Linked DNA regions of Homo sapiens: all the other regions are linked to region 1. Evidence: fine-mapped expression QTL. A gene starts in region 1. Each other region holds a variant in brackets. All regions are shown on one strand. Distances are between the middles of the regions.

Region 1 (8,185 bases):
TTTGGAAATAGAGAACTTGCAGGTGTAATCAAATTAAGATGAGGTCATAATTGGATTTGGATGGGCCCTAAATCCAATGACCAGTGTCCTTATAGCAAGAGTGGAGAAAAAGCCACACACAGGGGAGAAGACAGGGGTTGGACTGATGCCTCTACAAAGCCAGGAATACCAAGGATTTCCAACAACCACCACGATCTTGGAGAGAGGCATGGAACAGACTCTCCGTTAGAACCCACAGAAAGAACCAATCCTGCCAACACCTGGATCTTGGACTCCAGCCTCCAGAACTGTAAGAAAATACATTTCTTTTGTTTTAAGCCACCCAGTTGGTGGTAATTTGCTGCTGCAATCTTAGGAAACAAATACAGATTTTGGTACTGAAAAGTGGGGTGCTGCCATATTAATATACACAAACATGGAAGTGCCTTTATTAATAGATTGGGGTGATGGGCAGAGGAAGAAGTTTGAGGCACATGATAGACTAAGCCTAGATTGCCTTGAAGAGAAAGTGGGTGGAAATGTGAGTGCCCCATCTCTACAAAAAATAAAAATTAGGTGGGCATGGTGACACACGTGTAGTCTTAGCTACTTGGAAGGCTGAGGCAGGAGGATTACTTGAGCTTAGGAGGCTGCAGTGAGTTATGATCGCACCACTGCACTCCAGCCTGGGTGACAGAGCAAGGCTCTGTCTCTCTCTTTTTTTTTTTTTTTGGAGACAGAGTTTTGCTCTGTCGCCCAGGCTGGAGTACAGTGGCACGATCTCGACTCACTGCAACCTCCACCTCCTGGGTTCAAGCGATTCTCTTGCCTCAGCCTCCTGAGTAGCTGGGCTTACAGAAGCCCATCACCACACCCAGCTAATTTTTTGTATTTTTACTAGAGACAGGGTTTCACCATGTTAGCCGGGCTGGTCTGGAACTCCTGACCTCAGGTGATCTGCCCTCCTTGGCCTCCCAAAGTGCTAGAATTACAGGCATGAGCCACCACACCTGGCCAGAGACCCTGTCCCTTAAACAAACATATCTTTTGGAAGGACACTGTTTAACGTAGTACAACGAGTTATTCCAGTAGTCTAAGTTTGACAGAAGTTGTTCGTTGTAGAAGAACTTACTTGGAAATGAATATCAAACATCTTTGTATTATAAATATAATACCCACAAGTTTTTCTTAAATGTTTTTAATTTTCCACTAGTTTCCTGCTGTGAAAATATTGCTCTAATATTCCTAAAACTAACTTCTACTTCTAGAAAGCCACTCTGGGTCTCATGGACATTTCAGAGGGCTTTATTTTATCAATATTTTAATAATACTTTGCAAGACCTAAGTCTCCACTTACAAGTTTGCCACTAGATGGAGGTATTGACTAGATCTCCTTGACAAATGTAATAAATCCCAGATAAACCACTTTTTGAGTAGCTCTTCATTAATACATCTGTCCAGACACTATTGCCTGCTATGACAGGAATGATAATCCAAAGCCACAAATTCAGATATGCAAAAAATGTTTTTAAATTTTTTCTTTGGCCAGGTGTGGTGGCTCACACCTGTAATCCCAGCACTTTGGGAGACTGAGGGAGGATTGCTTGGGCCCAGGAGTTGGAGACCAGCCTGGGCAACATAGTGAGAACCTGTGTCTACCAAAATACTAGTACTAATAATAATAAATTTTAAAATACAAACAAAAATAATTCTCTCTTAATTGTATTTAATTTTCATTCCAACACTCCATTTCTATTTCACAGAAGAAATGTTAATCTAGTCACTTTCTTTTTTTTTTTTGAGACGGAGTCTCGCTCTGTCACCCAGGCTGTAGTGCAGTGACACGATCTTGGCTCACTGCAAGCTCCGCTTCCTGGGTTCACGCCACTGTCCTACCTCAGCCTCCCAGGTAGCTGGGACTACAGGTGGCCCCCTCCATGCCCAGCTAATTTTTTGTATTTTTAGTAGAGACAGGGTTTCACCGTGTTAGGATGGTCTCGATCTCCTGACCTTGTGATCCGCCTGCCTTGGCCTCCTAAAGTGCTGGGATTACAGGCGTGAGCCACCGCGCCCGGCCAAGTCCTAGATTCTTAAATGAAATTATTAGCTACATTTTTGCCTGGTGCTCATATTGGTGATAAAGCTACTCTTATTTTTTTGAAGTTTAGTTTTAAAGAGCAGCTTGCCTGCTGTAGCTCCAGAAATAAATGTACTATTCTTCTCCCCTCAATGCTCCTAAATGTCTCTGAACTTCTCTAGAAGCTGTCCTGATGAACATAGTGGCACTTTTTCCTGGTAGTGCCTCTGATGGCAGAATTGTCCAATTACAGCTGACTTCTATGTTCCTAGTTAGGTTTCTCCTAGGGCAGGTGTCTCCTAAGACACAACTAGTGTAGTGAGTGCCTAGAAGCCTAGACCTAGCAACCAGACTGCCTAGATTCCAATTGCAACTGTGTCACTAACTACTAGCTTTGTGCCCTTGGACAAACTTCTGGAAAATGTGGATAATGCTACTCCCTAATTCAGTGGATTTTTGGGAGAATTAAAATTAAACTGTAAAAGAACTGGTTCATATTAAGAACTATGTACATAGCTATGTAACCAGTCTTTTTTTTTTTCTTCTTTTTTTGAGACACAGTCTCATTCTGTTGCCCAGGCTGGAGTGCAGTGGTGTGATCTCAGTTCACTGCAACCTCCACCTCCCAGGTTTAAGCAATTCTCCTGCCTCAGCCTCCTGAGTAGCTGGGATCACAGGTGCCCACTACCATGCCCAGCTAATTTTTGTATTTTTAGTAGAGATGGGGTTTTGCTATGTTGGCCAGGCTGCTTTTAACTCCTGACTTCAAATGATCCACTCACCTGGGCCTCCCAAAGTGCTGTGATTACAGGCGTGAGCGACCACGCCCAGCCTAACCAGTCATCTTTTACTGTGTGATACCCTAGTCATCAGCTTTGGCCTCTCACAACTGGTAATCTCTATGAGGCCAGACCTTTAGTTTTCTGAGTCATTTCTTTAACAATTCAACTTTTTCAGTTAGAAATATCTGTTTCTCTCTCTCTCTCTCTCTCTCACACACACACACACACAAAGTTTAAACACTGACATACAATGTAATGACTTCCTTTCAATAATTCTCGAAGCAGCCCAGTATGAAAAATATTTGTCTTTGGCCTCTGGTAGAAGGGAAAGGTGTGAGTGTGACATTCCAAGGAAGGAGGTAGGCCTTGGTGAGCTGTTGAATAGAGAGGTTCTTCGGTGCAGGAATCACAGGGGACTTTAAGGGACAAACCTGGAGTGATGGGGAAATTAAAGACAGGGTGCTATATTAAAAAATTACCCTGGCCGCGTGCAGTGGCTCACGCCTGTAATCCCAGTACTTTGGGAGGCCTAGTGGGGGCGGATTGCGTGAGCTCAGGAGTTTGAGACCAGCCTCTGGGCAACATGGTGAAAACCCGTCTCTACTAAAATACAAAAGATTAGCCAGGCTTGGCAGCGTGCGCCTGTAATCCCAGCTACTCGTGAGGCTGAGGCGAACTCAGGAGGCAGAGGTTGCAGTGAGTCAAGATCGCGCCTGGGTGACAAGTGCGAGACTGTCTCAAAAAAAAAAATTACCCCCAAACAGACCTATTTAGGTGGCTTATGCCTATAATATCTGTGCTTTGGGAGGCCAAGGCCAGAAGATCTCTTAAGGCCAGGAGTTTGAGACCAGCCTGGGCAACATAGCAAGACCCCTTCTCTATATAAAATAAAAATTAAAAAAATTAGCATGGTGGAGCATGCCTGTAGTCCTAGCTACGTAGCTACTTGGGAAGCAGAGACAGGAGGATCCCCTAGCTACTTGGGAGGCAGAGACAGGAGGATCCCCTGAGACCAGGAGTTTGAGGCTGCAGTGAGATATGATTGCACCACTGTACTCCAGACTGGGTGACAAGAGCGAGACCCTATCTTAAAAAAAAAAAATACTCCAAAACATAATGGCCTAAAATAACAACCATTTGTTTTCTCTCGTTTCTGTGGACCATGAATTCAGACAGCATGGTGGGTATGGCTTGTCTCTGCTCCATGATGTCTGGGGTCTCAGCTGGAGTGGTTGAAGGTTGGGGACTGGAATCACCTGAGGCCTTTTTACCCATATTTGTATCTGGACTGAGCCTGGAATTTGATTGCTTCAAAATATTTTCACGGCTGGGTGTGATGGCTCACGCCTGTAATCCCAGCACTTTGAGAGGCTGAGTCTGGCCGTCTGCTTGAGCCCAGGAGTCAGCAACCAGCCTAGGCAACATAGGGAGACCTAGTCTCTACAAAAAAAAAAAAATACAACAATTTGCTGGGCGTGGTCGCCTGCGCCTGTAATCCCAGCACTTTGGGAGGCCGAGGAGGGAGGCTCACTTGAGTCCAGGAGTTCAAGACCAGTCTGGCCAACATGGTGAAACCCCGTCTCCACAAAAAATACAAAAATTATCTGGTTGTGGAGGCTTTCGCCTGTAGTCTCAGCTACTGGGATGGCTGGGGAGGGAGGATCGCTTGAGCCCTGATGGTCGAGATTACAGTGAGCTGTGGTCACGTCACTGCACTCCAGCTTGGGTGACAGAGTGAGACCTTGTCTCAAAAAAAAAAAAAAAAATCCTAAAATATTTTCATGAGTTTGTGCTGGGTAGGCCTAAGGGAAACATGCTCAGTAAATCGAAAAATCTCGGATTACACATAAACCACCGGCCCCGGCAGGTTAGACTTGGTGGACACGGGAGCCAGCAGCGTGTCAGGTGCTCGTTGACCCCAGCGCCAGTGTCTCCATCCACGTCCTTCACTCGTCAACCTTTCCTGGCCCAGGCTGCGGTGTCCCAGCGCCAGGCTCCGCCCCGCCCTTGGCTGCCGGCCAATCGCCGCCGACTGAGAGGCGACTATTGGAGGAAGCGGGATGGGCGGTGCCCGCGCCGGGCCGCTAGGGGTGCGGGGTTGGGGAGGAGGCCGCTAGTCTACGCCTGTGGAGCCGATACTCAGCCCTCTGCGACCATGGCTGTGCTGGCGGCACTTCTGCGCAGCGGCGCCCGCAGCCGCAGCCCCCTGCTCCGGAGGCTGGTGCAGGTGAGCGGGGTTCGTCCCCACAGCACTCAGACCCGGGATGCGAGGAGTCCCCGCCTCGGAAGCTTCCAGCCCGCGGCCGTTGCGGCTCCCGCGGCCCGGGCGCGCGGCTTAGGCCCCAGGACAGTCACGCGACGGGTTCTGGTCCAAAAACCGCCTAAGTGCTCCGATAACACCCAGGGACTCGCCTATTTTTACAGCGCGTTTCTACTTCCAAGGTCTCGGCGTAATCATCTTAATGAGCGTTACTGGTGTGTCAAACAAGGGCACGTGTCTGGGCGGGCAGGACCGCCAGGATTGGCGCTGGCCCGGCCTGAGCGGTGGGATCGGGGAGAGTCTCTTTGCAGGCCTGTGCAGCTGCTCCCGAGATTTTCTTTAAAACATATTTGTGTGCGTTATTGTCAGGAGAGGTTCCTTTTCTTTTTTAATACAATAGATAATCATTGGGCATACAAGGGGAGAGGGCACCATGTGATCATAACAGATGTTTTTTGGAGCAGCCTGAAATTTATCAGGGAAAACAAATGACTACTCAGATAATACAATAAATTATACTTGACATATGAGCAAAGCTCACATACTGAGGGCGTTCCAAGGGCTGTCGCTCTTCTGACCGTTGTGTTTAGGGAACACAGCAGGGGCAGAGTCTCAAAGAATTTATTCTCCACATGCGTAAGCAAGGGAGTACGCACCACAGATTGTCAGGCAAAGCCTCAGGAATAGGTAGAGACCTTCAGGGTGTGGTTGGTGAAGCTTGAGTTTTCTAGGTCGATGGGGGCAATAAGCTTGGAGATCCAGTTATGTTGTGAGTATGGACTTGACCCTAGTTAAGTAGGGATTGTTGATATGTTTGTTTTTGTTGCAATGGTAGGTCACTCTAGTTCTTACGTCTGGGCGTAGAATAACATTACTTGCACAAGGGTGCTGGCGGTAGGAGCTTTGCAAGAGATTGTAAAAGAACCAGTCTAGGACTTGACAATTAGGGAGTGAGGGTGCGAAGCCAAGGGAAAAGAAAGAGTCTAAAATTGATCCTGGGTGACTGAGATAATAGAAAAGTCACAAGGCGTAGGTTTCCAGGGAAGATGAGTTTTTAGCCTATTTGTTAGTCTCATGGGATGAGTGAAGAAATCACAAGAAAGTAATTAGGTTATCTTGGGTTTCAGTCAGTATTGACTAGGTGACATAGGTGAACTAGGTACTCTAGAGATGTAAAAAAAAAAAGTTCAGAACCTTCTTAATTTATGGTTTAATTAAGATCTTACAATCAGGTTGGTTGAGGTGGCTTATGCCAGTAATCCCAGCACTTTGGGAGGCCGGGGTGGGTAGATCATTTGAGGTCAAGAGTTCAAGACCAGCCTGGCCAACGTGGTGAAGCCCCACCTCTATTAAAAATACACACACACACAAAAATTAGCTGGGTGTGGTGGCAGGCGCCTGTAATCCCAGCTACTTGGGAGGCTGAGGCAGGAGAATCGCTTGAACCCGGGAGGAGGGGAAGGTTGCAGTGAGCTGAGATCATGCCACTGCACTCCAGCCTGGGCAACAGAGTGAGACTCCGTCTTAAAAAAAAAGATCTTAAAATGAAACACAAATACTCCTCATGAAAAAAATAAGCCTGTACATGCTGTAATGTATGATATGTGACATTCATATTACTGAACTCTAGGAAGCAGTTGTATTGGACACTTGAATTAAATGGTCATTTACTGAACTATAAACAGGATTTCCAGTTTTCTGTGCTATTTTGTAGAATGGAATTTGACCTCTCATTACATTGGCTCTTTTCCCTTTGCTTACCAGGTCTCTTTTATGGTCAACAAATCTTTATGGACTTTATTGGAGCACATTGCCTTTCTAGCTCTAATCACTTTTCTCTCTCTGGTCAAAGGAGTGGTCTTTACTCATTACCTCCCATGTATTCTGCATCTATTTCTCCTTAACTCTCTGCAGTTAAATTTCTTTGCCACTGAAGCTGAAAAATACAGTGATTTCCTTTTTCTTTGTTTTTTAATTATTTTTTTAAATCTATTTTAATTTTAGTTTTTGTAGACACGGGGTCTGGTTCTGTTGGCCAGGCTGGTCTTGAACTCCTGGCCTGCCAAAGTGCTGGGATTACAGGTGTGAGCCATTGTGCTCAGCCCAAGTTTTTTCTTCTTGACCTTTATCCTATATTTGACACTATTGACCACTCCCTTCTTGAAACTGTTTTGTGTTTTGATCCAGTTTTATTCAGCTTCTTTTAATACTCAGACTTAAAAAAAAATTCCTGTATTGTGCCAGTCTTGGGCTTATTTGCTCCCAGATTCATTTATCTTCCCTCCCCTAGTCTGTCTGCATTACTGTAGGCTGACCAATATCAGCTGGCTTCTGGCTGGGTGTAGCCACTGGAAGGCACCAGTGGAAGATTGGAAGATAGGAGGAAGGGAGAAGCCAGAATAATTTGTCTGTCTGTCTGTATCTGGCAGTGTCTGTCTCTCTTGTGGTTCCCGCTTCTGCTGGGATCCTGACCCCTTGGCTTTGGTAACCTTGCTTCTTCCCTTTGACCTAACAGCCTGTATGCTACTTCCTTCCTGTTGCTAATTTCTTTCTTTCTTTTTTATTTTTTGAGATCAAGTTTCGCTCTTGTTGCCCAGGCTGGAGTGCAGTGGCACGATCTTGGCTTACTGCAACCTTGGCCTCCCGGGTTCAAGCAGTTCTCCTGCCTCAGCCTCCTGAGTAGCTGGGATTACAGGCATGTGCCACCACACCCGCTACTTTTTGTATTTTTAGTAGGGACGGGCTTTCACCATGTTGGTCAGGATGGGCTCGAACTCCTGACCAGCTCACCAGGTGATCCACCTCTGATGATCTGCCCACCACAGCCTCCTAAAGTGATTACAGGTGTGAGCCACCACACCTGGCCCCCTTCCCTTTTTCTAATCTTACCCTAGTACACTCAGTTCCCCCGCAGCCAGAGTGGTCTTTTTATAACATAAAAGCTTTCAGTGGCTTGTCATTGCCCATAGGCCAGAATCTAGACCCTTATGATCTGCTGGGCCCTACTTAGTTCTGTGGCCTCAGCTGCTGCCGTGCTCACTCTGCTTTTGCCACAGGACCCTTCTTTCTATACTTAGTATGTGTGCC
Region 2 (8,185 bases), 530 kb after region 1:
AGAGAAATATCAATATCCAGGTACAAGAAGGTCATAGAACACAAAGAAGATTCAATCCAAATAAGACTATCTCAAGGCACTTAGTAAACTCTCAAAGGTAAAGGATAAAAAAAGGATTCTAAAAAGCAGCAAGAGAAAAAGAACAAATAACTTATATAGGAACTCCAATATGTCTGACAGCATATTTCTCAGTGGAAAGTTTTTAGGCCAGGAGAAAGTGAAATGACATATTCAAAATACTGAAGGAAAAATATTTCCATTCTATACTATTATATCCAGCAAAAATGTCCTTCAAACATGAAGAAGAAATAAAGACTTTTCCAGACAAACAAAAGCTGGGGAATTTGGTCAACACCAGACCTGTCCTACAAGAAATGCTAAAGAGAGTTTCTTAATCTGAAAGAAAAGGACATTAATGAATAATAAGAAACCAGCTAAAGGTGTAAAACTCACTAGTAGTAGTACACAGACAGATACAGAGTGCTCTAACACTGTAATTGTGGTGTGTAAACCACTCATATCGTGAGTAGGAAGACTAAAAGACCTATCAAAAATAATGACTACAACAACTTTTCGATAGATACATAGTATTAAAATATACAAATAGAAAAAACAAAAAGTCAAAAAGGATGAAAAGGATGGAGTTAAAAGGTAGAGATTTTTAGATTTTTTTTTTGTAATTAGAGTTGTCATCAGTTTAAAATAATTGATTATAAGATGTTATTTGCAAGCTTTATGGTAACCACAGATCAAAAATCTACAACAGATACCCAAAAATTTTTCCAAAAGAAATTAAAATATACTACAGAGAAAATCACTTTTACACAAAGGAAAATGGGAAGGAAGGAAGAAAGAAAGAGAGGACCAACAAAATAACCAGCAAACAAATAAGAAAATGGCAGTAGTAAATCTTATCTGTGAGTAATAACATTTAATGTAATTGGACCAAATTCTCCAGTCGAAAGACATAGTAGCTAAATGGATTAAAAAAAAAAAGACCTAAGTTTATGTTGCCTACAAGAAACATATGTCACCTATAAAGACACACATAGGCTGAAAATAAAGAAATGGAAAAAGATATTCAATGCAAATGAAAACAAAAAAAGAGCAAGAGCCAGGCATGGTGACTCACACCTGTAATCCTAGCACTTTGGGAGCTGAGGTGGGAGAATTGCTGGAGGCCAGGAGTTCAAGACCAGTTGGGCAACATAGCAAGACCCTCATCTCTACAAAAAATTTAAAAATTAGCTGAGTGTGGTGGCATGCACCTGTAGTCCTACCTACTTGGGAGGCTGAGGTAAGATGATCACTTGAGTTCAGGAGTTTGAGATTACAGTGAGCTATGATCACACCATTGCACTCCAGCCTGGGTAACAGAGTGAGACCCTGTTTCCAATTAAAAAAAAAAAAAAAGGAGCAGGAGGCAGGAGTAGCTATGCTTATATCAGATAAAATGGATTTTAAGATAAAAACTGTAAAAAGTGACAAAGAAGTTCATTCTATTATGATAAAGGGGTCGATTCTGCAAGAGACTATAACAGTTGTAAATATACCTACATCCGACACTGAAGTACCTAGATATATAATGCAAATATTATTAGAGCTAAAGAGAGAGACAGAACCCAATACAATAGTAGTTGGAGGCCTCCACATCACACTTTCAGCATTGGACAGGTCTTTTAGACAGAAAATCCACAAAGAAACATTGAACTTAGTCTGCAGTACAGACCAAATGGAGCTGATAACATTTACAGGACATTTCGTCCAACAGCTAAAGAATACACATTCTCTTCAACACGTGGAACATTCTCAGGTATAGAACATGTATTAGGCCACAAAATTTAAAAACATTAAATAATATAAAAATTCAAAAACATTGAAATCATATCGAGTATCTTTTCTGATCACAATGGAATAGAACTAGGAATTAATGACAAGAAGAACTTTGGAAACTATCCAAACACATGGGAATTAAACAATATGCTCCTGAGTGACCATTGAATCAATGAAGAAATTAAGAAAGAAGTTTAAAAAATTCTTGAAACAAATAAAAACAGAAACATAATATACCAAAACCTATGGGATATGCAAAAGTATTGTAGTACTAAGAGGGAAGTTTATAGCAATACATTTCTATATCAGAAAAGTAGAAAAACTTCAAATAAACAACCAATGATGCATCTTAAAAAACTAGAAGAGTAAGAGCAAACCAAACCCAACATTAGTGGAAGAAAATAAACAATAAAAATCAGATCGATCACTTGAGCCCAGGAGTTCAAGGATGCCGTGAGCTATGATTGCATTACTGCACTCTAGCTTGTAACAGAGTGAGACCCCAACTCTAAAAAAAAAATTAAATAAAACTACAGGCCAACATCTTTGATAAACATAGATGCAAAAGCCCTCAACAAAGAAACTGGCAAACCAAATTCAACAACACATTAAAAAGATAATTCGGGCTGGGCGCAGTGGGTCACGCCTGTAATCCCAGCACTCTGGGGGGCCAAGGTGGGCATACTGCTCAAGCCCAGGATTTCAAGACTAGCCTGGGCAACTTGATGAAACCCATTCTCTACTAAAACTACAAAAATTAGCCAGGTGTGATGGTATGCACTTGTAGTTCCAGCTACTCGGGAGGCTGAGGTGTGAGGATAGCTTGAGCCTGACAAGTTGAAGCTGCAGTATGCTGAGATCATGCCACTGCACTCCAGCCTGGGTGACAGAGTGAGACTCTGTCTCAAAAAAAATAAAAATAAAAATATAATTAATCATAATCAAGTGGGAATCATTGTAGGAATGCAAAAATGGGTCAATCTAGGCAACTCCATAAACTTGATACATTATAGCAATAGAATGAAGGACAAAAACATACGGTCATTTCAATTGGTGCTGAAAAAGCATTCAATAAAATTCAACATTCTTTTGTGATAAAAACTCAAAAAACCAGGCCTAGAAGGAACATATCTCAACATGATAAAAGCCATGTATGACATAACCATAGTTAGTATCATACTGAATGGGGAAAAAACAGCAAGACTTTCCTCTAAGATCTGGAACAAAACAAGGATGCCCATGTTGACCACTGTTATTCAGCCTAGCACTGGAAGTCCTAGCTGGAGCAATTAGACTGAAAGGAATAAAGGGCATCGAAATTGGAAAGGAAGAAGCCAAATTATACTTGTTTGCAAGT[G/A]ATATTATCTTATATTTAGAAAAATCTAAAGACTCTACCAAAAAAACTATTAGAACTGATTAATTCAGTAAGGTTGCAGGATAAAAGATCAACATAGAAAAATCAGTAGTATTTCTGTATGTCAACAGTGAACAATATGAAAAAGAAACCAAGAAAGTAATCCCATTTACAACACCTACAAAGAATATACAATACCTAGGAAATAACTTAACCAAGGAAATGAAAGCTGTCTACAATGAAACTATAAAACATTGATGAGGCCCGGTGTGGTGGCTCATGCTTGTAATCCCAGCACTTTGGAAGGCTGAGGCAGGTGGATCACCTAAGGTCAGGAGTTCGAGACCAGCCTGGTCAACACGGTGAAGCCCCATCTCTACTAAAAATACAAAAAATTAGTGGTGGCGGGTGCATGTATTCCCAGCTACTTGGGAGTCTGAGGCAGGAGAATTGCTTGCACCTGGGAGGTGGAGGTTGCAGTGAGCTGAGATCATGCCATTGCACTCCAGCCTGGGTAACAGAGCGAGACTCTGTCTCAAAACAAAACAAAAAAACCCCACAAAAACAAAAGAAAACAAAATGATGAAATACAGAGGACTCAAAAAAATGAAAAGATATCCATGTTCATGGATCGGAAGAATTAATATTGTTAAAATATCCATACTACCCAAAGAAATCTAGACATTCAATGCAATCCCTATGAAAATATTAATGACATTCTTCACAGAAATAGAAAAAATAATCCTAAAACTCATATGGAACCATAAAAGACTCAGAATGGTCAAAGCAATCCTGAGCAAAATGAACAGAACTGGAGACATCACATTACCTGACTTCAGATTATACTACAAAGCTATAGTAACCAAAACAGCATAGTACTGGCATCAAAACAGACACATAGATCAATGGGACAGAATAGAGAACCCTGAAATAAATTCGTGCATTTACAGTGAACTCATTTCTGACAAAGATACCAAGAACATGCATCGGAGAAGGGACAGTCTCTTTAATAAATGGTTCTGGGAAAACTGGATATCCACAAGCAGAAAAATGAAACTAGACCCTGATCTCTTGCCATATACAAAAGCAAATCAAAGTGGATTCAAAACTTAAATGTAAGATCTGAAACTATGAAGCTACTAGAAGAAAATATTGGGTAAACACTTCAGGATATTGGTCTGGGCAAAGATTTTTTGAGTAAGACCTCAAAGACCAAAATACCTCAAAGACCACAGGCAACCAAAGCAAAAATGGACAGATGAGATCACATCAAGCTAAAAAGCTTCTGTACAGCAAAGAAAACAATCAACAAAATGAAGAGACAACCCATGGAATTGAAAAAATATTTGCAAATTACCCATTTGACAAGAGATTAATAATCAGAATATCTAAGGAGCTCAAATAACTCGACAGTAAATAATCAAATAATCTGATTGGAAAATGGGCAAAAGATCTGAACAGACATTTCTCTAAAGAAGACATATGAATGGCCAACAGGTATATGGGTGTATGAAAAATGCTCAATGTCATCGATCATCAGAGAAATGCAAATTTAAAACCACAATGTGATATCACCTCACCCAGTTAAGATGGCTTTTATCCAAAAGACAGGCAATAATGAATGCTGGCAAAGATGTGGAGAAAGGGGAACACTTAAACACTATTGGTGGGAATGTAGTACAGGCACTGTGGAGAACAGCAGGAGGTTCCTCAAAAAACAAAAATGGAGCTACCATATGATCCAGCAATCTCACTGCTGTGTGTGTATCTAAAAGAAAGGAAATCAGTATATCAAAGAGATATCTACACTTCTGTGTTTATTTGCAACACTATTCAAAATAACCAAGATATGGAATCAACTTAAGTGTCCATCAGTAGATGAACAGATAAAGAAAATGTGGTATATATACGCAAGTTGGGCAGACCCTAGAATCACAGCAGATTCAGAGAGACTCCAGGGATGCCTCGTGGTCAGAAAAAATTTATAGATTAAAAAAAGGGAAGTGACATACAGAAATCAGAAGTGAGGCACAGAAACAGCTGAATTGGTTATAGGTTGGCGTTTGCCTTATTTGAACACAGTTTGAACACTTAGGAGTCTATGAGTGGTTGAAGTATGGCCACTGGGATTGGCCAAGACTCAGCTATTGTTACAGGTGCATACTCCTAAATTAGATTTTCGATCTTGTCTGCCTATTAAACTAGGTTACAGTTTGTCCATAAGGACTCAAATATAGAAATACAGAGTCCTTCTCAGGCCATATTTAGTTTGCTTTAACACTATGTAAAACATAGAAATATATGGAAATTGTACATAGGTAGTGAACAATTAGATTCAAGGTTAACTTGAATAACTGAACTCAGTAAGGTTGGCCCCAGTACATGACAAACTGCTATTTATGAAGATACTAATTCTTTTTAGAACAGGAGAGTTGGAAGTCTTTCCATGATGAAATAAATCAAAATTATGTTTTGTGGTGCCACAAACTGGGAGAGAATACCAATGATATCAAGTATTAAGTCACATATGACCCTGGGCGTATCATTTAATCTTTCTTGCCTTCAGTTTTCTCATCCGGAAAATGAGTTGTGTGAGGTTTAGAAAGAATGTATGTAATGAAGTTAGAAATAGCACTTACTAGGTGCTCAATAAATATTAGCAATTACTTCCTGTTAATTAAAAAGAAGCGTTGGAAGAATGAATTAAAAATAGAATTTTGGGAGTACTGATTGTAAATAAAGCATGTCCTAGAAACTCAATGTTTTAATAAGACAGACAAACTTACCAGTACACCAAATTGCTGAGTGACTATAAAAACCCAGGCCAAATTCAGTCCACTCCCAAGGGAAAACTAGCACTTAATCCTACCCTGCCACCTGCTGGCCCATGATAGACCAAAAATAACTATCTGGAAGTTCCAATTTCTCACTAAGTGAAAATAGTGGCAGAAATTAAGTTTATCTCAGACAAGTGATTAGGGCATGAGTCTTCAAGTATTTTTACTAGTGAACCACAGTATGAGAATCCTTATGTGTGATAGCCACAGTAATTTTTATTGATAACATTGATGAGTTGAGATGGTTTTGTTAAGCGTCTTATTAATATCTATGGTTCAAATATGAATCAAGGGCAGGCAGGGTGCAGTGGCTCACACCTGTAATCCCAGAACTTTGGGAGGCTGAGGCAGGCAGATCGCCTGAGTCCAGGAGTTCGAGATCAGCCTGGGCAACATGGCAAAACTCTGTCTCAACTAAAAATATAAAAAAGTAGCCAGGCGTGGTGGCATGTGCCTGTGGTCCCAGCTACTCAGGGGACTGAGGCAGGAGGATGGCTTGAGCCCAGGAGTTCAAGGCTGCAGTGAGCCCTGATTGTTTCACTGCACTCCAGCCTGGGCGAGGCCCTATCTCAAACAACAACAACAACAACAAAAAAATCAACAGCATATGGAAACTTTATTTATTACTATTTTCCCTTTGTATGTTAATTTTCATAGTTTTATTATGGTTTAATTTTGGTGGTATTCAACTTGAACTGATTATAATCAGCTTCAATTATTATGATTAATTGTAATTTACTAGACCAGAGGTCCCTATGAAACAGAATTGCCTGGTTTCTGTTTCATACTTATAGAATAGGAATATTTTTGGCTAAAGCTCAGGAAGCACTATTTTTTAAAAGCTTTCTATGTGATTCTCGTGCAACTAACTTTGGAGGCCATCATGCTTGATTATAAATTTCTTGAGGCAAGGACAGTTTTTTTCTTCATTTTTGTATTCTTGAGGCTTAAGAATGTCTAGTACAAGACAATTAGATAAATAAAGGAAAAAAGTTATACATAAATGAATGAACAAACACATGCATAGACAAACTAATTGATTCATGACTCCTGGGTAGTTAGCAACACAACAGTTGTGGCAAGCTTAAACCTCGTGGCCTTTTAATTTATGTGTACTAGCCAATTAGGTAAATATATTTTTGTTGTTTAAAGGTTTGACAGGATGCATTCTGGAATCAAGGTGGCTGCATGCTGGCCCCGCCAAGTTTTAGAGGATATGAGTAAAAGGAGATGGAACCAACCAAAGCTGCAACTTCAAAAATTGTATAGAGGTGTTGTATCCTAACAATGACTTCAGACTGATTATATTAATAAGGTATAAGGAAACAAAGGTAATTTCACTATTTGAATAAACATATATCTTGTTGTATTAATTTCTTTTCCAACTTAAAAAAAGTCAAATATACAGTTGAATTGATTTACAAATAGTTATTTGCCATTTTTACGTAACAAGAGGACATGGATGGGTTCACCTTTTAGCATCTTTAGGCCAAGTTATTCTGATCTTGTGGACTCTCTTAAAATTAAACAGTATTTAACTTTATTGGCAATGTAGAAAGGCAGTTACAATGCAGAGAGCAGACAAACTTAAACAAAGAACTGGCTGGGTGCGGTGGCTCACACCTGTAATCCCAACACTTTGGGAGGCTGAGGTGGGCAGATCATGTGAGGTCAGTAGATCCAGGCCAGCTTGGCCAACATGGTGAAATCTGTCTCTACTAAAAATAGAAAAATTAGCTGGGCCTGGTGGTGGGTGCCTGTAGTCCCAGCTACTTGGGAGGCTGAGACGGGAGAATTGCTTGAACCTGGGAAGCGGAGGTTGCAGTGAGCTGAGATCGCACCACTTCACTCCAGCCTGGGCGACAGAGCAAGACTCAATCTCAAAAACAAAAAAACAAAAGCAAAAAACTATTACTGAAGAGGTCCACTGTGTGCCTGGGAGAATTGACCCATAAACAATTAACTCTAAAACATAATTTAGTAAAATGATTTGATTTACTAAAAAAGGGAGAAAAAATAATCTGATTTTTCATTCAAAACAATTAAGGTCATTATGAAAGAAAGAAAATTAGATTGGCATCAGACAGCTTGGCAACAACACACTAAACAAGACAACAGTGGAACAACCCTTTAAAAGAAACTCAAGGGAAAAAAGTGAAAA
Region 3 (8,185 bases), 26 kb after region 1:
TTTCAATTGAGATAGAAGCTCCTTTAATATTTTCATTATACTTTATATAAGATTAAGCTTTAAGGGCTGGGCACAGTGGTTCACGCCTGTAACCCCAGCATTTTGGGAGGATAAGGCAGGATTGCTTGAGGCCTGGAGTTTGAGACCAGCCTGGGCAACACAGTGAGACCCCACCTCTGAAAGAAAAAAATTAGCCAGGTGTGGTAGCATGCCTGTAGTCCCAGTTACGTAGGAGGCTAAGGCTGACGATCATTTGAGCCCAAGATGTCAAAGCTGCAGCCAGCCTAGGCAACAGAGCAAGATCTTGTCTCTTTTTCTTTTTTTTTAAATTAAGCTTTAAAAAACTTCCTGTCCTGTATGATAAATAGCAGAAAATAAAGTACATGCATTTTCCTACAGAGGCAGCTATGTAGGAAAAAAAGAATATGGGATTAGGAGTCCAGAAATACAAAATTTACATGTGTGGTGTTTTAGTATTTATTAACTCTGTGGCCTTGGGCAAGTTCTCAATGTCCTTAAGCCGATTTTTAGCTGCAGAAATCTGTCTTGCCTTCTTCCTAAGGACTTAACAGATGCTATTTTGTTACTTTATAAAAAGCCTTATAACTTCATTTTTTTTCTTAGCTTAGATCATGGTTTCTTAACCTCAGCACTATTGACTTTTGCACTAAGTAATTCTTTGTTGTAGGGACTGTTCTATGCATTGTAGATGTTTAGCAGAATCCTTAGTCTTTACCCAGTGGCATCTGAACTATTCTGACAACCAAAAACATCTCTAGGTGGTGCCAATGTTCCTAGAGGCAAATACCCCCAAACTCCCCCCCAATGAAAATCAGTGTCTTAGATTACTGGAGTAATTTTATAAAGTGTAGAATCCTAGAAAAGGAAGACATATATTTACATATATTAAAGGGGCTAGGAAATGTGCATTTAATGGGCTAAACTTGGCTTGTGCATATTCTATACAGTAAAAAAAAAAAGATTTTAACAACCCCCCCCCCCCTTTTTTTAAACAGCATTTGCTGACGCTGCTGTAGAACCTATTGATTTTCCAATTGCTCCTGTATATGCTGCATCTATGGTGAGAACAAAGTGAGGGGCGATACTCCATTATGCTAGCTTCTGGTTTGCTTATACCAAGGTTGCAGTTTTTAAGATTTTAAATGTTATCTGCCAAAGCAGAGAGATAGCTTGGTTTCAAATCTTCCCATGTCTTCTCCTGAAAAGAGTAAGAGCAACAAGGATAACAAACAAAAAAAAAAAAATAAAGAACAGCTCACAAACTACATCTTCAGTAGAACAGGTAAAACTACACATCTGAATTACTTGTAAGTATCATACAGAACTCACACACCTGGTGTGGTAACCACAAAGCGGAGGGAATGCTGGCTGATGGTTCCAGATCTAGAATGGAAAGCAACTAGTCACTCCCCAGGAGAGGACTCCATTCTGAAAGGGAACAGCTGGCAGCAGGTCTTCAGAGTAAATAGTAAAACTAGAGACAGAAAACCTACATATTCCAAATTGTCAGTAAGGGCTATCCAAGTCTCAGTGGGAAATTGCTAAGCAGTCACAGGAAAAGAAAGTTTTAGGGGTTCAGGGTTCTTAGAAATCTTAAGTAAATATTTCCTTTTGAGAGGGCCTCACCCTGACAGTAAACTTCTGTAAGCACCCAGATAAAAAAAATTGCAGAATTTTAGTAAAATCAGATTCTCCCCACTGCCCCCAACCCCCGCAATGAAAAAAAAAACTGCAGAATCAGTAGGAAACAAGAATAGAGAAGATCAGAAACAAGGGGCCAGTGGAGTGATGATCTGCTCAGAGCTAGCAGATCTCAGAAAATGAAAGGAACACGCAGCTTCTGAAAGTGAGTAACATCACGTTGGAAAGCAAGGGTAATAAACAATTCTGGATTCTGAAGGTAGAATAACTTCTGAGAGCTACAGACATAGCTATATATGGGTACCATATTTTGTTTTGTGTTGTTGGAACAGTGGAAGCTGTTTGAGCTGTATAGGCTAGAAAGCTACCCTTAGTCCACTAGTAGAAGAGAGGAAGATGGAGGAAGAGTTCCACGTTAATTTTATTATCGCTCACAACAATCAAATTTCTTCTGTAAAGAAAAAGGGCACTCACTAGTAATGTTTTAGGGCACTCACTAGTAATGTTTTAAAAAGTATTAGCATAGGGATAATCACTGGCACAAATACACCTTCCTGCATAGCTGAGGAACTACCAAAACAAAACAGATCATATAGTGTAAGATTTTAAATAAATGACTTACAATGAAACTGCAACAGATGTAAATATCTGTGGCCCAGATAACCCTACAGTAACATTTATAAAGCAGAAACTGCAGGGGATGCATTAATATCACTAATATTAGAAACTAATATACCTCTTTCATTAACAGTCAAGAACATAGAAATGGCTGGGTGCAGTGGCGCTCGCCTGTAATCCCAGCGCTTTGGGAGGCAGATCGCTTGAGCCTGGGAGGTCAAGGCTGCAGTGGGCCATGACTGTGCCATTCCACTTCAGCCTGGGTGACAGAGCAAGACCCTGTCTCAAAATAAATCAACAACAACAAAAAAGAATATAGAACCAAGCAACACACAATCAGTAAAGCAGAGCTTAAGAATATATAAAGCATTATGTGCCCCTAAATAGAAAATGTACCTTTTCAAATATCTGTGGAAAGAAAATCAAATTTTCTGTCCCCTATGTCAAAACAGACATAATGCAAACAAAATTCTTTGATATAATGGAATAAGATGAGCAACTAAAAATCTGAAAATGGGCCGGGTGCGGTGGCTCACGCCTGTAATCCCAGCACTTTGGGAGGCTGAAGTGAGCAGATCACCTGAGGTCAGGAGTTTGAGACCAGCCTGGCCAAACATGGTGAAACCCTGTCTCTACTAAAAATACAAAAAATTAGCTGGGCATGGTGGTGGGCATCTGTAATCCCAGCTACTCAGGAGGCTGAGACAGGAGAACTGCTTGAACCTGGGAGGCAGAGGTTATAGTGAGCCAAGATGGCGCCATTGCACTCCAGCCTGGGAGACAGAGCAAGACTGTTGGAAAAAAAAAAAATCTGAAAATAGAGATCCTTCCATCTGAAACCAAGAACTTCCATATTTAAATAACTTATGTCAAACTGTAGTATTTCAAGGAAATGATGACAGTAAGTTGTGATTGCTAATTATTTGAACATCATCTGTCTTTTAAAAAATTTAAGGTTCTTAAAGATGTGGGATTGAAAAAAGAAGATATTGCAATGTGGGAAGTAAATGAAGCCTTTAGTCTGGTTGTACTAGCAAACATTAAAATGTTGGAGATTGATCCCCAAAAAGTGAATATCAATGGAGGAGCTGTTTCTCTGGGACATCCAATTGGGTAGGTAAAAATAATAACTATATCTAGGTTAAGAGCTGCCTTTGTGTTTCTAGCTAAACTTAAAACTGCTTCATAATTCCCATTGCTCTTAAGTTTTCCTTCCTACCCATCTTTCATAAGGCAAAAACCATTTCTGATAGATGGTATCCAATACTGAACAGAGACCTGTCACATCTGTTATTTGAAACCTAATAATGTTTTATGCTGAAGAAGAAAAAGTGTACATTTAGACTTTTTACCCCCTTTTTCTCCTTCCTATTTATTTCATTAGCTTTAGGGTACCGTGGGTTTTGGTTACATGGATGAATTTATAGTGGTGGGGGCTGATTTCAGTGCACCTGTCAGTCACCCAATATGTAGTTTATCCCACATCCCTCTTCCATTATACTCTACTCTTCTATCCATTATACTGTTCTGTACTTTTAAAAGATCTGTGACCTGGCCAGGCACGGTGGCTCACGCCTGTAATCCTAGCACTTTGGGAGGCTGAGGTGAACAGATCACGAGGTCAAGAGATAGAGGCCATCCTGGCCAACATGGCGAAACCCTGTCTCTACTAAAAATACGAAAATTAGCTGGGTGTGGTGGTGCACGCCTGTAGTCCCAGCTACTTGGGAGGCTGAGGCAGGAGAATCGCTTGAACCCAGGAGGTGGATGTTGCAGTGAGCTGAGATTCTGCCATTGCACTCCAGCCTGGCGACAGAGCGAGACTCCATCTCAAAAAATGATCTAAGATCTGTGACCCTTCCTGAAACAAGTCCTCCAAGTTTTAGTTTTAGAATAGTAGTAGTTAATTCAGCAAGTAGTAGTGGCTAGTAAGGTTTTCAAGAAGTTAAATTGGAATAGAAACATTTTGGTTAGTCATAAATTCTGTACTTCATTAAAGAAGTAAATGCTTTCTTAATTTTAGGATGTCTGGAGCCAGGATTGTTGGTCATTTGACTCATGCCTTGAAGCAAGGAGAATACGGTCTTGCCAGTATTTGCAATGGAGGAGGAGGTGCTTCTGCCATGCTAATTCAGAAGCTGTAGACAACCTCTGCTATTTAAGGAGACAACCCTATGTGACCAGAAGGCCTGCTGTAATCAGTGTGACTACTGTGGGTCAGCTTATATTCAGATAAGCTGTTTCATTTTTTATTATTTTCTATGTTAACTTTTAAAAATCAAAATGATGAAATCCCAAAACATTTTGAAA[TTAAAAA/T]TAAATTTCTTCTTCTGCTTTTTTCTTGGTAACCTTGAAAAGTTTGATACATTTTTGCATTCTGAGTCTATACTTATCGAAATATGGTAGAAATACCAATGTGTAATATTAGTGACTTACATAAGTAGCTAGAAGTTTCCATTTGTGAGAACACATTTATATTTTTGAGGATTGTTAAAGGTCAAGTGAATGCTCTTTATAGGTAATTTACATTTAGTAAATTACGGTAAATTAAATTACTTCTCTTTACAGTAAGAGTTGGCTATTCTGGACAAACTAGCAGTGCTTCATATAATCACTCAAACCACAGTGTGTGCAGCAGTACTAGAAACAAGACAGAAGCCCATGTCCTCAGGGTCTAGAGTGGGGGCAATTTCTTATAACCTCAACATTCAGGGTTGGGGGAGGTCAAGCAGAAAACCCTGGAGTTTGGGCTCTGAATTACTATAGCAGCATAGAGAGTGGGAAGGGAGGTAGAAACTGATATGCTGAATGGATATATAAAAAAGGGAACAGATCACCACTTCCAATACACGACAATGCCTGTTCTTAAGCAGGACAGACTGTAACAGAAGTATCTCGCATTGCATTTTATCTGGGAAAAAATTAATTAATTAAAACGCTACAGGCAGGGGCTATGCACACTACCCTCAATTGCAGCTCTGAAGAGGGAAAACTCCCCCTCAGGAAGAGGAGGGGGCAGTAAAGGTCATTGTGTACACATTATCTGTTGGCAAATAATGTATTGTAGATCTTTTGAAGGAGCAAAATGACAATATATGGGAGAAATAGATTAGATTGCTCTTCAGATTCAGAGGAAGAGTAGAGTATTTTCAAAAACATCTGTAATCATCACCAACTTTTGAGGCTTGTTATGTGCTTTATATGTATAAACTCATTTAATTGTCACAAAAACTTCTAAGAGTGGGTACCATTATTATCCCTCCTTTATAAACAAGGAAATTGAGGCATAGAGTAGCTAAATAAATTCCAAGGGCAAAAAGCTGGCTAGGATTCAACTCCAAGTTAGTCAAGCTCCAGAGCCCACGTTCTTAACTTACTATGCTTTAGTTAAATGCCTTTCAATAATTATCTGCCCCGACTTACAAAAACTTCTAACTGAACCAGGAGCTGGATAAGATATAGGAGAAAAGGAAACCCAAAACATGAGAATACTTCATTGAAGATAAGCAGAAACTAACATTGCATCCAAAGGTCATTGATCTGGAAAACATCTGAGAAGTGCTCTGACAATTCTGGGAAAAAATGGAAAAGAGAGAAGAAACAGAGAATCAAGTAAGTAGGTTTTTTAATTTGTTTTAAAGAGATAAGGTATTGCTCTGTCGCCTGGGCTGGAGTGCAGTGGCATGACCATAGCTCACTGTAACCTTGAACTCCTGGGTTCTCAAGTGATCTGCCTCCCTCAGCCTCCTGAGTAGTTAGGACTATAGGCACATGCTACCATGCACAGCTTAAATGGTGTTTCCTAAAAAAAAAAAAAAAGATACTCTGAAGCAATAATTTAATATAACAGAAAACATAAAGATAATAGAAAAACTCAGATTTTTAAGTCCTAAGGGGGAAGATTTTAAAGAGCATTTTTTTTTTTTCTTTTTTGAGACAGAGTTTTGCTTCGTAGCTCAGGCTGGAATGCAGTGGCACGATCTTGGCTCACTGCAACCTCCGCTCCCTGGGTTCAAGCGATTCTCGTGCCTCAGCCTCCTGAGTATACAGGCATGCGCCACCAAACCTAGCTATTTTATTTTCAGTAGAGAGAAGAGTTTTGCCATGTAGGCCTGGCTGGTCTCGAACTCCTGACTTCAGGTGATCCTTCTGCCTCGGCCTCCCGAAGTGCTGGGATTATAGGCATGAGCCACCACGCCCAGCCCTAAAGAGCATATTTTATTGGCAAAATTAATTAGCAGAAAATCATACTAAGACATTCTGGAGAAAATGTATTAAATTCCTCTAACATCTAGTTAGAAAAATAGGTAGCCACAGTTCTTATTTCTATTACATTCAATCCAAGAAAACAAGTGACAGGACATCTAACTGTTTTTAATGAAACAAAATAAGATACTAAAAGGTGTGTCTCAAACACAGAAAAGTTTAGAAAATAAAGTACTCTGATGTTTCCTCCAAAAATGACAAAGGTTTAGGCAAGCCCATGGAATGAAGAATTAAGAATTCAGTTAGGTGAAAGTTTCTAATTTTTTAAATGACTGCTTAAGGACTGGCTGGGGAAGAAGGAAAGGTAGTGGTTGAAGGAAATAAAAATGTTTTACCTCAAATTATATTTATTTGACATATTTTGAGATGGCTATCAGAGGGCCAGCAAACAGAAGTGGTGCTGCAAAGCTGTCTTTTTTGAAAGAAATCTGCGTCTATGGAGAATCTCCATTAATGCAGCCAGGACTTCCCTTGTCTGGAATCTAGAAAAGGTTAAATGAGAGCCTGTCTGACACCTTTAAAGGTCTTAAACATTTAACATCCATTCTCTCAGAAAGCTTCTAACAAGACCACCTTTCCTAGCCAGGTCTCCTTTCCCTACCCGTAACCTGTGTTGCCACTAAAACCTGATTTACCAAAATAACATGTTTTTGGCCATGCTGGGAGCTCACATTACTTCTGTAACCTGAAGATGGTATAAAGTTCCTACACCTGGCCGGACACAGGGGCTCATGTCTGTAATCCTGGCACTTTTGAGAGGCCCAGATGGGCAGCTCACCTGAGGTAAGAAGTTCGACAGCAGTCTGGCCAACATGGTGAAACCCTGTCTCTACTATAAATACAAAAATTAGCCGGTCGTGGTGGCGCATGCCTGTAGTCCCTGCAACTCAGGAGGCTGAGGTGGAAGAATCGCTTCAACCCAGGAGGCAGAGGTTGCAGTGAGCCAAGATCACACCATTGGACTCTAGCCTGGGCAACAGAGTGAGACTGTCTCAAAAAAAAAAAAAAAAAAAAGTTTCTACACCCCACTGGGGGCGGGGTCAGGTCTTTGTCTGAAGGCCCCCATGTATACAACATTAAATAAATGTATATTCCTTTTCTCCAATTAATCTGCCTTTTGCAAACAGCTTTATTTTCCAGCAAACCTTCAGAGGGCCAAGGGGAACTTCAAGGTTACAGTGAAATGATCCTGCCACTGTACTGGGGGACAGAGGGAGACCTTGTCTCTTAAACAAAGAAAAGAAATACCATTTACTTTCTGGTTCTCTATTTTTTCTCTTCCTTTCCATTTTTTCCCCAGAATTTTCAGAGCACTTTTCAAATGTTTTCCAGATCACCAACCTTTGGATGCACTACTTACCTTCAGTGAAGTATTCTAAAATATGTTGAGTTTCCTTTTTTCCTTGTATTTTCCTTTTTTTTCTTGTGTTTTACACCTACCTCCTGGTTTCCCTTGGCCTTTACATGGTGAAATATCGGTAACATGTTATCTTTATCTGCTAAATAAAGGTAAACGCTAGTAGGACAAGTTCTGAGACTGCCCTCACGGGACTTACAAGAATTGCATGCTGGGTCCTGGACAGAAATATAGTTATAACTAGGCACTAAACAGGCTGCACCTTGGCCCACTTCCTAAACC

The links.
Region 2: its variant is fine-mapped to the expression of ACAT1 in anterior cingulate cortex (GTEx, PIP 0.96).
Region 3: its variant is fine-mapped to the expression of ACAT1 in cerebellum (GTEx, PIP above 0.99). The same link has a PIP of 0.9 or more in lung, tibial artery and whole blood.

What each region holds. Positions count from the first base shown.
Region 1 is chr11:108,116,614-108,124,798 of GRCh38, forward strand. ACAT1 (acetyl-CoA acetyltransferase 1) reads left to right here and starts at 4,954. Exons shown (of 12, transcript NM_000019.4): 1 at 4,954-5,065. The coding sequence starts at 4,994. RefSeq lists silencers at 4,616-5,154, 4,756-5,165 and enhancers at 7,391-7,510, 7,571-7,630.
Region 2 is chr11:108,649,136-108,657,320 of GRCh38, forward strand. No RefSeq gene overlaps it. Among named protein-coding and RNA genes, the nearest start is that of DDX10, 12 kb to the right of the region's middle. The variant G/A (reference allele first, on the strand shown) is at 3,191.
Region 3 is chr11:108,142,967-108,151,151 of GRCh38, forward strand. It overlaps ACAT1 (acetyl-CoA acetyltransferase 1), which reads left to right. Exons shown (of 12, transcript NM_000019.4): 10 at 1,017-1,081; 11 at 3,236-3,393; 12 at 4,304-4,637. The coding sequence ends at 4,424. Among named protein-coding and RNA genes, the nearest start is that of ACAT1, 25 kb to the left of the region's middle. RefSeq lists a silencer at 7,803-7,971. The variant TTAAAAA/T (reference allele first, on the strand shown) is at 4,591.